Linked DNA regions of Homo sapiens. The protein of the gene in region 1 purifies or fractionates together with the protein of each later gene. This does not show direct contact. Each region holds a gene or a part of one and is shown on either strand. Other genes may lie near its edges.

Region 1 (3,500 bases):
GACTCAATTTCCCAATAGGTAAGAAAAGCTTATATACCATCTTGAAATTACAGAATAAATGTGAACTCAGAGTATGTTCAAAAACAGTTTTTGGTGGCAAGACAAGTTATTGGAGAAAGGAAGTAAGAGGCTTGGTAACAGAGTTGGCCTTGTTATAGATGAAACCTATGTCAGAGAGAACAGATGGTAAATGTTTCTTTTCCAACTTTTAAAGATGTCAGGCTCAATCTCTCCTGGATCTGAGAAAAGCATAGAATGGGGAGGCATGGCTACATTCATGGAGATTCTTTGCAAATGCAAATTTTCCCCACCTCAGTCTGTGAGCCCTGAGGCAATGATCTCAAAATATTTTAAAGAAATATATTTTAGGGTAAAATATTTTTATTTCCTTCACCTTTAAAAGATAGGAAGTTTCTCAGGGACACAGATCGTTGTGGATGATTCTATATTCTCCATAGAACCTAGCAAATAGCTCATAGGATGGGGCTTATTGAATATATACTGATTGAGTGTGGGCTTTAAAGCAGCCAAAGTCCTCAAAAAGCCATGGAAAAGGAAATAGAGTTATTTCCCTTTATGTTTTCTTTTCAAATGCAGAGAGCTTTAGTGATTACAGACGCAGCCTCCTCACTCCCATGTGTAGGTGGATAACAAGTCATTTTCTGATTTCCTTCACAGAATGACAACCAAGAAAAATAAAAGGTTGAGATAACTTTGAAAGCAAATCATGAAGCTGTCCTTTTCTTGAGGTCCAGATAATAGTATTGATGGTACCCTGAGACCTTGGACTGTGCTAGTTTCTACCCATAGGATATGTCTGACCACCTGTGATTTCTAAATTGATTTCTTTTCTCTTTTCTCAGGTCTCTACAGGTATTGCTTTTCTGAGGTGAAAAGGATAGGTGCAGGGAATATTGATAGGAGAAGCCCAAGTCAGAAGACAACATTTTAGGGAAATAGTCGGCATCAGAAATGTACTAGTTGATATATCAAGGTTTTTAATTTATGCTTAATACTTCTAAACAGAAACTTTGAACTATTGTTTAAGCAGTTCAGTTCAATTATACTTTTTATATGTTCTTTGAATGCTTACTAGGCTAGGTCCTGGCTATATGGTGATGAAAAAAGGAGATCTTTTTGTGGCACTGATGGACTTAAGAGCACAGTGAGGGTAATAACCAACAAACAAATTAAAAAAAAAAACCCTAAATTACAAATGTTGATGCTAAAAAGAGAAAGAACAGAGAGTGTGAGAGTGTGTAATGATGTATAGGATTACCTAGATCGAGTGAGTGGTTAAGGTCTCTTAGACCCACAGATTGAGATTAAAAGGAACCAGAGATGTGAATTTTGTGACCTCAGCACCACTTATTTAACCTCTTTGAGCCTCAATTTTCTCATCTGCAATGTGGAAATAATCACAGGACTCCTGTGAGGATGGATGACATAATGAATAAAGTGTTTAGCCTGTAAATAAAAGGCAGCCCTAAATAAGTGGTAGCCATACTTAATGTTAATGTTAGACATGGTATGGAGAATGAACTTTAGGGGAAGGACTGGAATGTAAACAGTTTAGTAAGGGAGCTGTTGCAATAGCCAATAGGGTTGATGACAGCAGCCTGGATTAGGATGGTGACAGTAGAGGTGGAGATAGGTTAGAGAGGATTTTACATGGAAGGAAGAATTACCTGGGTTTTCTGGGTTTTTATTGTCTATGGGAGGAAATATAGTGGCAAAGGTCAGAATTACTCCCTAATTTCTAGCTTGAGTGTCTGGGAGGGGAGTCAGGTCACTGACTGAAAAGGGAAGCACAGATTCAGGAATGAATCACCAATCCCACATCCCTATGAGACAGGAACCAAGAATATGTCCAGATTGGAGGGGAGAGAAATTGGCAACACAAAGGGAGCAAACTGCCCACAAGTAGGCAACAATAGAGCCAGACTCATAGATAGAGGAAGAGAAAGACACACACACACACACACACACACACACACAGAGAGAGAGAGAGAGAGAGAGAGAGAGAGAGGGATGGGGTGAGGGAACAGAGAGAAGGAATATACTCTGATTTTAGTCCTTCCATCCAGGATTTTCTTGTTAGTGGCTTCTTAGCTTCTCCTTTCTTATATTTCAGAAATGACACAATTGTCCATAGCAAGCTAAGTGTTCCCTCTAAGAGAGTCTATGTTTCTGCTCAACCCCAAATAAATACCTTCTGCCTCTCCTCATCACGGGGATTTTACATCTAATGGTCACTAAGAAGATTTGGGGGAAAAAAAGCCCTTCTTACCTTCCCTTCAGTCTGAAGCAAAAAAGAGGTTTTTGGAAACAAGCCATGCAAATCTCTACGCTCACAATGAACTGTGAATTGCAGAAGCATAAGAACCCACATTTAAAAAATAAAAAAGGTGTAAACTTGACCTCTAGCTTGCTGTTCTGGCATAATTGGGCTCTGTTATTTAACAGGGAGGTGTGAACAGAACATGCCCATTTTGTAAGTGAAACTTTCTGCACCAGTGAAGCTAAAACAAATAGCCATTTCTTTTAAGTGCAAAAGTGGAAGTGTGACTGCAGGAGAGTAAGGTTATGAACAATTCTTAGTTATTGAAATTGTAATGCACTGATGGATCTTTCTTTGCTCTCTCACTGCCTGTGTGTGGACAATAGTTGATAGTAGAAGCAGTGCCAACACTAAAATCAAAGTAGGTGGTAGGGTGGGAACAGTGTGGCATAAGTAGGGACAGGTGTTTACTTCTATTCTGATTGTCCAACTAGACGAATTCTAGTGTTATATAAGTTCCTACTATGGGATTAGAATGGTTCTGCCACAATGTGCTCTTCACATGTCACAGTGAAATCGAAATAATGTCTTTTGTAGCAACGTGGATGGAGCTGGAGGCCATTATTCTAAGTGAAGTAACACAGGAGTAGAAAACCAAAAACCAGGTATTCTCACTTATAAGTGGGAGCTAAGCTATGAGCATGCAAAGGCATGTGGAGTGATAGTTAAGACAGCCAAATTCTACTAAGTAGTCTCTCCTAGTCAGGGAGAGGAAAGTGGCATAGTGGAAATACCACACGCTTCAGAGCAAGCCAGGAATGATAGTAAATCCTATCTTTACCATTTTCTAGCTTTGCTACTTAAGGCAATTTACTGAATGCCTCTGAAGCTCAGTTTTTTCATCTAGATCATAGGGTGATAATAGTTCTTACATCTTAGGACAGTTGTGAAAATTAAATTAAATAAATACACCTGAAAACTTCCATTACAGATTTTGGGATACATCCTTGATCGTCACCACATGATAATTATTTCCTGCCTTTCCATTTGTGAGAGTCCCTTCCACCCTCCATTCTAAGTAACACATACATAAGCAAGATGACTGCATGACTGTTTAAGATGTATCACAAATAAGAGGGCAAATAGGGAGATGGAATAGAATGGGGGAAAGCAAAAGTTTTATTTACAGTAACAGCAGCTCATAACAGCCACACTCTTT
Region 2 (2,685 bases), on another chromosome or scaffold:
TTTTTCAAAATGTATTTTCAACAGAGCATGCTTAAAAATCATGTAACTCATTAAAAGGCCAGAGAGCAGAGCTAACACAACTTGCCTTATCTTGTAAAGGCCTTAAAAATAAGGCTTCAGATTGTTTTTTTCTTCTGAATTCTGTCAATTTGGTATTTGATGGTGCCTGCAGTTCTCTTAATGCACTTTAAAGCTTCACAGTTCTGAAACTGGAAACGCATAAAACTTTTAAAATTATTAATATTCTAATTCAACAGATTTTCATTATCTTTGTAAGATTTCAACTATATTTATTTGCCCTTTCTTCTCCCCCTCTCCCTTTGCCTCTTGCATTAGACAGGGCCAATATTTTGTCCTACAAAATTTCCTCTTGGTCTCTTTAAAAATCAGTTATTGTCGTGCTTGCTGAAGATTTTCAGCTACAGTGGATTAAATTAAAGGGGGCATTATTTGGCCTCGGCCTCTACTTTTTTCCTTTTAATCTTGAAAGGAAGTTACATATAACCATCTTTCTTTTCCTGATTTATAAATCTTCCCATATGCTGTTTCATTAAATTGCTGTTTTTTTAAGGGGTGACTCAGACCCCAATTCAAAGATGAAAACACAAATCCTTCCCCAGAAAAAAAAGTATGTAATAGTAGGGGATGTTACAGGCTCCTTATAAAGGTCCTCTCCTCTAAGCATTAAAAGTGAGAAAAAAATCAGGACTTTGCTTTGGTAATGTATTAGAGTTCAGTTCAAAAAATTTTGTATTAACATTTTCATTGGAGTAAATTTTAGGAAGTATCACATTGTAGTGGCCTACCTGTATACATCCACAGTAAAATTTCACCATGTCCATTGAGCACCTCTATGCCAAGGGTGTTGAGATGATGAAATATACACTTGACCTATTTCTTTTTTTTTCGAGATGGAGTTTCACTCTTGTTGCCTAGGCTGGAGTGCAATGGCACGATCTCCACCTCCTGGGTTCAAGCAATTCTCCTGCCTCAGCCTCCCAAGTAGCTGGGATTACAGGCGTGAGCCACAGCACCTGGCCAGTACACTTGACCTATTTCAAGCTGACTCAATGAACACTAATCCAAGTTATATTGCTTATGGCATACTAAGAATTTAACTTGTATAAATTACCTCTGAATAGTTACATAAACACTATCACCATTCAGTATCCTATTTTTTACATTAATTTTTAACCATGCACTTTAAGTTTGTGAGCCTATAAAAAATACATAGAAAATTTATGGATTAAGAGCATTATATTTAGTGGTTAATCCTAGGTACCTCCCTGCCTACAAAGGAGTTCTTATTAATACTGCAGGATCTTTTCTTCATGAATATATGCTTCCATGAAATTTAAATTTTTCTGAATAGCCTAAGTATGAAATGAATATTTTACTTGAAGATCTATTTTTTCCAAAACCCGTAAATTTCCAGTCAGCTTTTGAGGTGTCAGATGTGACACAGATTTCTAGATGGTCTTTCTTGAATACTGACAGAAATGTCCTCAAGAGAGGATTATATTCTTGAACCATTTTGTATTGATAGGTGGGATGGGCTAACATTTTTATGATTACTGAATAAACAAAAAATGAAATTTTCAAATATGCTTTTTTATTACTGTGCTTAGAACAAATTTTAAAATGTGACTTAAGTTGCTTAAATTCCAAGGCTAATTTCATTCAACAAACCATGATTTTGTCATCCTTTAAGTAAGTTTCTCACTTTTCAAAACTCATGTATCAACACTGACTGACTTGCTTTTTTTTTTTTTTTTTTTTTTTTTAGGCAGCTTTTATGACAGCAACTTGCTCCATGTAGTTTTGGCTTATTTAAAAACTATACTAACTTTGGATTTTTCTGTTACAAGACTTTTAACAATCTGTATTTCGTGATTGTGAACTCGTATTCATTTTACTTTTCAAAAACAGACTTAACATACCATTCCCTCACCTAGCAGTACTACCACAATAATGCTATCATGGTGCCAGGGAATTACAATTGTAATTCTTCTAACCTATAATGTTTAAAAAATAAAATGTGAATTTTATGAACTAAATAAATATTTGGAAAATTAGCCTGCTTTAAAAGGGCAATTTTGGTTTCATTAATACTGTATACTTTTACTGCTTTAAGATGTTAAGAGAGTAATCCTGGGAAAATAAAACACATACAACTTTCAAAAAAGACAGGTGGTGTATGCCCTAATATTTAAATTGCTCATTAAAGGAAGTGGATACAAGCATTAAGATGAATCATAGCTTCAGTCAAGAGGCTCCACATATATAGGCTGCCCCGGCTCCCTCTCCTAAATCATAGACATCGTATGTAGTACCACCTTCTACCAATTTGATTTTAGAATTAGTAACTGACACAAAGCATTCTAGGACAGACGCCATACTATTATCTCCCACAATGACATTTATTAATAACATTTCTGGCAAAAACAAGTAACAAGTTCAATAACTGAATTCACATCAACAGGTTTCATTTTGATCCATTAGCCAATTTGGAAAAAAGCCATATTGATCAAAGGGATTAAAATTAAAAAGCACCTTTTCCTTGCTACATATAGATTCTTTAAACTAAAACTCCAAGCAGGGATCAGATACAAAACCCAACTGCAGGATTGTTTTTATTGACTATGACATGGACTTGTTGCTTACATTTTTTTAAAGTCATCATTT
Region 3 (4,161 bases), on another chromosome or scaffold:
GTAGAGATACAAAACAAAAAATAACCTTCTTTCATGAAGGTATAATATGCAGGTTAGCGGGACTACCTAGCCGTCCATACTGAATGGGTTTGGAAATCCCAACTCTTTTCTCTACCTGCTCTGTGATACCAGGCAAGTTAAAGTCTTGTGTGCCTCAGTTTCCTACCTCACCGTGTTATGGTGATTAAATTAATATATATGTGGAGTACTTGACACACAGTCAAGCCTGCGATTACTGCTGTTCATGGTTTTATTTTCTCTACTAGACACCAGTAAGGCACCCCCAGAACTCGCTGTGTTAAGTAGATTCTGGTTGGATATAGAAACACAGGCACCCCAGGCGGAATGCAGATACGCCTCAACATGTGGATTAAGTAAGAGCCAGGAAGCAGAGTAATGAAGCAAAAATAAGACGTCCAGAGTCACCTTTTAAGAAAATGTGGGTTGGTGGTTGCTTAAGAGGGGAGGAGACAATTTAGATGGGATGTATGGCGTGAGCAAAGGGCAAGAATGAGCACGGTGTAGGCACAAGTCCATGGAACTGCTTGGCTGGATCGGGATTTTTTTGTCATAGAGTGTTAAGAAATAGTCGATCAGTTGAGGAGTAGAGGAGTGAAGACCTTGGAAAGTTGCCAAAAGCCTCGAGAATTTCTCTACATGTGTGACATGTTCTCAGGACTCAACTTTTTCTTTTAGGTTTGGAAGACCCGCAGTAAGTGTGCTTTAGAATTAAATGGGTGGGAAGGGGAGCTAGGCAAAACACCTCGCACTTAGCACTAAATAAAGTTCGCTGTTGCCCTAAGAGACTGAAAAGGTTACTTTAACAAAGGGGGCGGGGTTAACTTAACGTAGATGTTTAACTCGTATACAGATGAACATTCCAGTTGATCACTCTGAAGCTTTTTGGCTAAAGCGTTTGGGTTTAGAGCTTCCATTACTCATTCGCCTTGCCCAAGGCCTCAGCAACCGACGTTCGAAAGCCAGGAGAAAAGGCGAATGATAAAGGGCGCTCCACGCATGCGTTAAGAAGCCGCCCCAACTCCCCCGCGGCGTTCTTTCTTGGAACAAAACTAGCGCGGAGCCACGGAACTCCGCAGTTTGCGTAGACTTGAATTTCCTATTCCTCGGACGATCCATGTGGAATCCGTGAGTAGTGCGACTCCTTTACGCAACTGGCGTTATCCGAAGTGAATAGCTAGGTGGCGCGTGTACGCCCATAGCGTAGCACCCATAGGCGGACGGGGTGCGGCTGCGCAGGGAGCTGAGTGGACCTTGTACGCCGCAAGCGTAGCAGGGTGTCAGACGCGCCGGTTTCTGCGACGCAGTTAGCGCAGTCTGCTTTGGTGAATACACGATTTGGTGCAGCCGGGGTTTGGTACCGAGCGGAGAGGAGATGCACACGGCACTCGAGTGTGAGGTAACTATAAAACCCCGATTTGTTTACATTCCCTCCCCCAGAACCGGCCCCGTGCGCGGCGGAGACTGCGAGTCCCGGGACGGCGTGGGGGTAGAAAGGGAGAACAGAACCGGGGAGTCGGGGCTGGTTCCCTCGGGGATGCGGGCGCTGGGGTTCCCGCAGCTGCTGCAGTCGGCGGCGGCCAGCCGAAGCAGAGCGCGTGGTGGGCAGAGTGTTGGGCGCCGCGGCTCCTCGTGTGCGGTCTGGGCTGCTGCGGGCCGCGGGATCGGGAGCCGGCGGCATCCACTTCGCGTGCGGAGCCTCGCGCCCCCCTCACCTTCCTGTGGAGGTTGGCGGAGCCTCGCGGGCCGCGCCCGGGGTGGGGGAGTGACCGCTGGGCGGGTGGCGGCGGTTAGGGGGCTGCGCGCCGGCCGCGGATGGCGTCGCAGGCGCGGGCGGGCGAGGCTTTGGGGATCTGTAGGCAGGTCTTCGGGGGCTTGGCGACCAGCGCCCCGGTTTTTTCTTCTCCAGTCCTTCTCTCTGGTCTGTAATGGGGCGAGGGGACCCCGGGATGGAGCCTCGGCACCGCTGTTCCGGACCGAGGCTAACGGACGGCGGCGCCTCTGCTCCTACTAGTTTTCTCCCGGACCAACCGAAAAGCCGAGGCGGAGCGCGGGGGTGTGAAGATCTCGGCCTGCTGGGGGTCCCTGGAGCTGAGGGTGAGGGTGGGGCCGGGTCGGTGGGACAGGCCGGGTGGGCCGGAGGTGGCGCGGCCGCACGGCTTTGTTCCGGAAAGCCCTTAGGTGGAGAGCGATGTGGGGCGCGGCAGGGGGATCGCGTAGAGGAACCTTCGCGCACCGCCTCTCCGGGTCTGGGAATCTGCTGAACTCCTTGCCTCTCCTGGGGTCCCTCGAACGCCCCAGCTAAGAAGGGCGGGGGCCTTGCCAGGGCGCGAGCAACATGACGTTCAAGGTCTTCCTGTGGCTTCTGTAAAGAAATGTTCACGTGGGAGCCTGTCCACATGGGCTGTACTAAGGATCTGGCACGAGGAAGAAATATCACTGCAGAACCTGAAGCCCTCCGTTGGAAGGGTCGTTCACTCGAGTACCTATTCTAAGTAACAGTGACACAAAACACATGTTAGAAAAAAACAAAAAGTATGGTAGGTTATACTGTTTTTTAAAAGAAACTTTTATTTATGCCTTTTGCTGTTAAGTCCTCTAATTTTACATTGGAACTGAGTCATTCTTGGAGCAAAACTAGAATAGGTTTGTATTTGTTTTCTTTTTGGATGTGTATCTAAATTGTACATAATTAAGAAAAAGCAAGTAATGGAAAAGCTGGAGATGTAGAACTTAGTTCCTTCTAACTTAGTATGCAATTGAAAGCCTCAAGTCAAGACTCCTGTGTATTGTTTTGTATTAGGACTCTATTGTACAAATATTTGAGTACCTTAATATGAGTCAGTTACTTTTTCTAGATCTTGGATCCATGCCAGACAACGCACATTCTGCAGACACTGGTTACTCCAGTGGCTCCTTACTGGAAACATATAATATCAGTGATAAGTGCTGTGAAGAAAATAAAACAATGATGTGCTGGTATGGATTTTTAACTTTTTTATGTGATGAACCACAGAATGATGGTTTTAAATGTATGAAATACATAGAATTGCAACAGAAACCAGTTATGAAATAATGAAGATATTAAATATGACATCTATATTTTAGTAAAGCATTAGTGAGGACTGTAAATGATCTTTAAAGAATTTGGCTTAAATTTAATCTAAAATTGCTATCAGGTATTTCACATCGCTGTAATTTTTGCCTGCATTCGTAACTGAAGAGATAAGTAAATGTCAGAGGTTAAGATAAATCTTTTTCTTTTTTTACCTGTCCATATTTACAAACATTCTGCGTTCCGTACATAGACGCCTGGATAAGAACCCCTGTGCAAGAATGACTTTGGTGCTACTTTAAAAAAAGTGGTTGGGGAAGACCTCATAGGAAATGACATCAATAATAGATTGCATGATAACCTATACTAGTTCTTACTGTTACCAATTTAAATTCTAACTGCTTAAAAGCTAACACGGTCCTTCCCTTTTTTTGAGCACCTGATTTGAAGTACTTTGAGTAGGCCTCAAGTGTCGTATGCAAGTACTAATCTAGGGGGTGTGCCTTTTTCAAAAGTGATTTTTGGAGAAGATAGGATGTAGTATTATAGCAAGGAAAATTCAGCATCTGGGATGATCATTTCCTTCTGATTAGAGAAATTTACCTTGTTAATATTCTGTTCACCCAACCCTTCTACCCTCAGTGTTGACCAATACTGGAAAAAATTTAGGGCTTTGGAGTGAAATTTTAAAAGTTCAAAACCTTGATCTATTAATTAGTTTGCTTACCTTGAGGAAGTTGCTTATCTTAATCTTCTATTTGAACTTCAAGTACAAAAACCCTACTCACGGACTTAACTGTGACCATTAAATGAGATAACCAAAAGGCTGAAGATGATAGTGAGTTGATTTTACCTTTTTTCTACATACAGATGTTTCAGTTCTTTCATTAGTGGTTGAAGGTCTGCGTTCTTTTTCTCCCTCCACTCCCTCCTTGACTACCCCCAGAATGAGCTTTGATGGTCTCTACTGGGCCTTTGGGGGGGATACATTATCCTGTTGTTTTTGTTCTGTTACTTATATATAATACTCATGGATTTATTTCTACTTCTCTTCCATTTTCTAATTTATAATAACATGTGCATCTTGT
Region 4 (3,500 bases), on another chromosome or scaffold:
AAACCTGGATATTAAGGCAAATTTACCAAAGGTCCAAATTATTTTTCCACAGGACACAGCATGAAACAAGAGCTAAAGAAGAAATGTGAGGCTGGGCATGGTGGCTCATGCCTGTAATCCCACTACTTTGGGAGGCTGAGGTGGGTGGATAATTTGAAGTCAGGCATTCAAGACTAGCCTGGCCAACATAGTGAAACCCCGTCTCTACTAAAAATACAAAAAATTAGCCGGTCAGTAGTGGTGTGCACCTGTAATACCAGCTACTCAGGAGGCTGAGGCAAGAGAATCGCTTGAGCCTGGGAGGCATAGGTTGCAGTAAGCCTAGATCATGCCACTGCACTCCAGCCTGGGCAATGGAGCGAGACTCTGCCTCAAAAAAAAAAAAAAAGTGAAATTCAAGTTAATGGCAACTTAGATAAAATAATATACTAATGAGACACAAGAGAGGTATGGAGCTGCCTGAAGACTTGTGATTTCAGATGTCAGGTAAAATCAAAAGACCCGAAGTCAAGTGTACACTGGGAGTACTTGATACATCTAGAACACCCTTTAGGTGACAAAATGCTCACAAAACAAATACTACATTGAAATCAATAAGATTTTCTTCTGTAACATTCAATTATTCTACAACCCTAAAACCTTCTAAAAATATATACCTATATGACATTCTATTCTAGAACCTCTGGCTTCTAGAAAACAAAATTTCCTTAACAAATCAAAGACTGGAATGCAGATTACATGTATATAACTAAAAATATATACATGGTATTCCCACATAGGTGGTATGCTTTTTCCTTCCTTTTCTTTTCTTTTTGAGACGGAGTTTAGCTCTCGTTGCCCAGGCTGGAGTGCAATGGCGAGATCTCGGCTCACTGCAACCTCCACCTCCCGGGTTCAAGTGATTCTCCTGCCTCAGCCTCCCGAGTAGCTGGGATTACAGGCGTCCGCCACCATGCCCAGGTAATTTTTTGTATTTTTAGTAGAGATGGGGTTTCACCACATTGGCCAGGCTGGTCGTGAACTCCTGACCTCAGGTTATCAGCCCGCCTCAGCCTCCCAAAGTGCTGGGATTACAGGCATGAGCCACTGTGCCCGGCTGAAGACTAAATTTTTAAGAAAAGGAGGATGGGTGTGGTGGCTCACGCTTGTAATCCCAGCACTTTGGGAGGCTGAGGCGGGCAGATCATGAGGTCAGGAGTTCATGACCAGCCTGGCCAACATGGTGAAACTAAAATACAAAATTACTAAAAATACTAAATTACTAAATGCTAAATTCACTATAGTGCAAAGCATTTGTATACCTAGGAGGTGCTAATTAGATACTTGTTGAAGATTAATTTTTTTTTTTAAAGATAGAGTTTCACTCTTTCACCCAGGCTAAATTACTAGATTACTGAAAATATTCTACCAAAAATACAAAAATTAGCTGGGCATGATAGCGGGCGCCTGTAATCCCAGCCACTTTGGAGGCTGAGGCATGAGAATCACTTGAACCTGGGAGGTGGGGGTTGCAGTGAGCCAAGATTACACCACTACACTCCAGCCTGGGCAAGAGTGAGAGACTCCATCTCCAAAAATAACAACAACAACAAAAAAACAAAGAAGCCATAACATGAAAGACAGAAGCAGTAGGACATATTTGGAGACTAGCAGGTAACCTAGTTGGGGTGAAGCATAAAGGCATATGAAGAAGATTTGAGGGTGATAAAGCTAAAAAGGAAGGTTAGGAAAATCAAGAGAATATTAAATGCTATGTTAGAGTCCTATAAGTAGAGTAGACATTGTGGGCTTCTGCATGGGTGACATACAGAATGATTTGAAGTCATGTATGCTATTAATGTATGTCAAAGGCCAGGCATAATGTTACTAATAGAATCTGGAACTAGCATAATAGCTGAGAAAACAGAAAAAAGGAGAAGTATGCTAAAAATTACAGAGCTGGAAGGAACAGGTGACAGTGAATAAAGAGAGATGAGGGAGAGAAGATAGCCAAATATGACTAAAGTAGGCAACAGTGCTAGATACCATTAACAAAACAACTGAAATAGGGGGAAAATGACGTTTTGAGGAAAAGACCAGTTCAATTACAAGAAGTTCTATCTGGCTGGCCGCGATGGCTCACACCTGTAATCCTAGCACTTTGAGAGGCCGAGGCGGGCAGATAACCTGAGGTCGGGAGTTTGAGACCAGCCTGACCAACACAGAGAAACCCCGTCTCTACTAAATATACAAAATTAGCCAGACATGGTGATGGGCATCTGTAATCCCAGCTACTCAGGAAGCTGAGGCAAGAGAATCACTCGAACCCGGGAGGCAGAAGTTGCGGTGAGCCGAGATTGCACCACTGCACTCCAGCCTGGATAACATGAGTGAAACTCGTCTCAAAAGAAAAGAAAAGAAAAAGAAGAGGCCAGGCGCAGTGGCTCACACCTGTAACCCCAACACTTTGGGAGGCCGAGGCGGGCGGATCACCTGAGGTCAGGAGTTCGAGACCAGCCTGGCCAACATGGTGAAACCCATCTCTACTGAAAATACAAAAATTAGCTGGGCGTGGTGGCAGGCGCCTGTAATCCCAGCTACTCAGGAGGCTGAGGCAGGAGAATCGCTTGAACCTGGGAGGCGGAGGTTGCAGTGAGCTGAGATCGCACCATTGCACTTAAGCCTGGGGGACAAGAGCGAGACTTTGTCTCAGAAAAAAAAAAAAAAGAAAAGAAAAGAAAAAGAAGAAGTTCTACTGACGCATGTGAAAAAACGTCCTAGATGTGTTTGATGTGCAGCTGGAAATGCAGATCTACACTCAGTAAAGAGAGCAAATGACTGAAGTAGATTTAAGAGTCATCAGCATCGCAGCAAGTCCAGAGGCAATAGGAGTGGATGATGCCAAGCAGGTGAGCATGGAGAAAGGAAGGATCTGAAGAGAGAACCTGGGAGACACTTGTATGTAAAGAAAAGGATGGCCGGGCACAGTGGCTCGGGTCTGTAATCCCAGCACTTTGGGAGGCTGAGGCAGGTGGATTGCTTGAGCTCAGGGGTTTGCGACCAGCCCAGGCAACATGGCAAAACCCTGTCACTATGAAAAAATACAAAAATTTGCCAGCCGTGGTGGCATCTGCCTACAGTCCCAGCTACTCAGGAGGCTGAGGTGGGAGGATCATTTGAGCCTGGGAGACAGAGGCTGCAGTGAGCCAAGATAGCCCACTGCACTCCAACCAGGGTGACAGAGTAAGACCCTGTCTCAAAAAATAGAAACAAAAAGAAAAAGAAAAGGATGTGGAATACTGAGAGGGGAAACAGGGAAGTACAGTCTTACAAAACTCAAAACTAGAGGGTTCCAAGATGGAAAGAATAACCAATAGTAACAAATAATGAAGCAAGGTAAACAAATGGGAACAATAACAAAAACAAGAAAGTTGTAAAGGCATGTGCAGCATGATATAATGGAAAATGGGAGAGGAGTTAGAGATGGACTCACATGGACTCACATACCATTTCCACCATTT

Evidence for each region. Proteins that work in one complex are often made in the same cells at the same time.
Region 2: the proteins of P2RY10 (region 1) and RUFY2 purify together in Homo sapiens (co-immunoprecipitation; one large-scale study listed by IntAct). This does not show direct contact.
Region 3: the proteins of P2RY10 (region 1) and SLC39A10 purify together in Homo sapiens (affinity purification with mass spectrometry; one large-scale study listed by BioGRID and IntAct). This does not show direct contact.
Region 4: the proteins of P2RY10 (region 1) and MON2 purify together in Homo sapiens (affinity purification with mass spectrometry; one large-scale study listed by BioGRID and IntAct). This does not show direct contact.

Annotation. Positions count from the first base shown.
Region 1 is NC_000023.11:78,955,391-78,958,890, forward strand, and holds part of P2RY10 (putative P2Y purinoceptor 10), read left to right. Parts: intron 1-3,500. UniProt on the Homo sapiens protein: Putative receptor for purines coupled to G-proteins.
Region 2 is NC_000010.11:68,342,908-68,345,592, reverse strand, and holds the end of RUFY2 (RUN and FYVE domain-containing protein 2), read left to right. Parts: 3' UTR 1-2,185; downstream 2,186-2,685.
Region 3 is NC_000002.12:195,655,865-195,660,025, forward strand, and holds the start of SLC39A10 (zinc transporter ZIP10 precursor), read left to right. Parts: upstream 1-1,361; 5' UTR 1,362-1,393; coding exon of another isoform or gene 1,394-1,745; intron 1,746-1,801; exon of another isoform or gene 1,802-1,946; coding exon of another isoform or gene 1,947-2,115; intron 2,116-4,161. UniProt on the Homo sapiens protein: Zinc-influx transporter. When associated with SLC39A6, the heterodimer formed by SLC39A10 and SLC39A6 mediates cellular zinc uptake to trigger cells to undergo epithelial-to-mesenchymal transition (EMT).
Region 4 is NC_000012.12:62,473,326-62,476,825, reverse strand, and holds part of MON2 (protein MON2 homolog), read right to left. Parts: intron 1-3,500. UniProt on the Homo sapiens protein: Plays a role in regulating membrane trafficking of cargo proteins. Together with ATP9A and DOP1B, regulates SNX3 retromer-mediated endosomal sorting of WLS away from lysosomal degradation.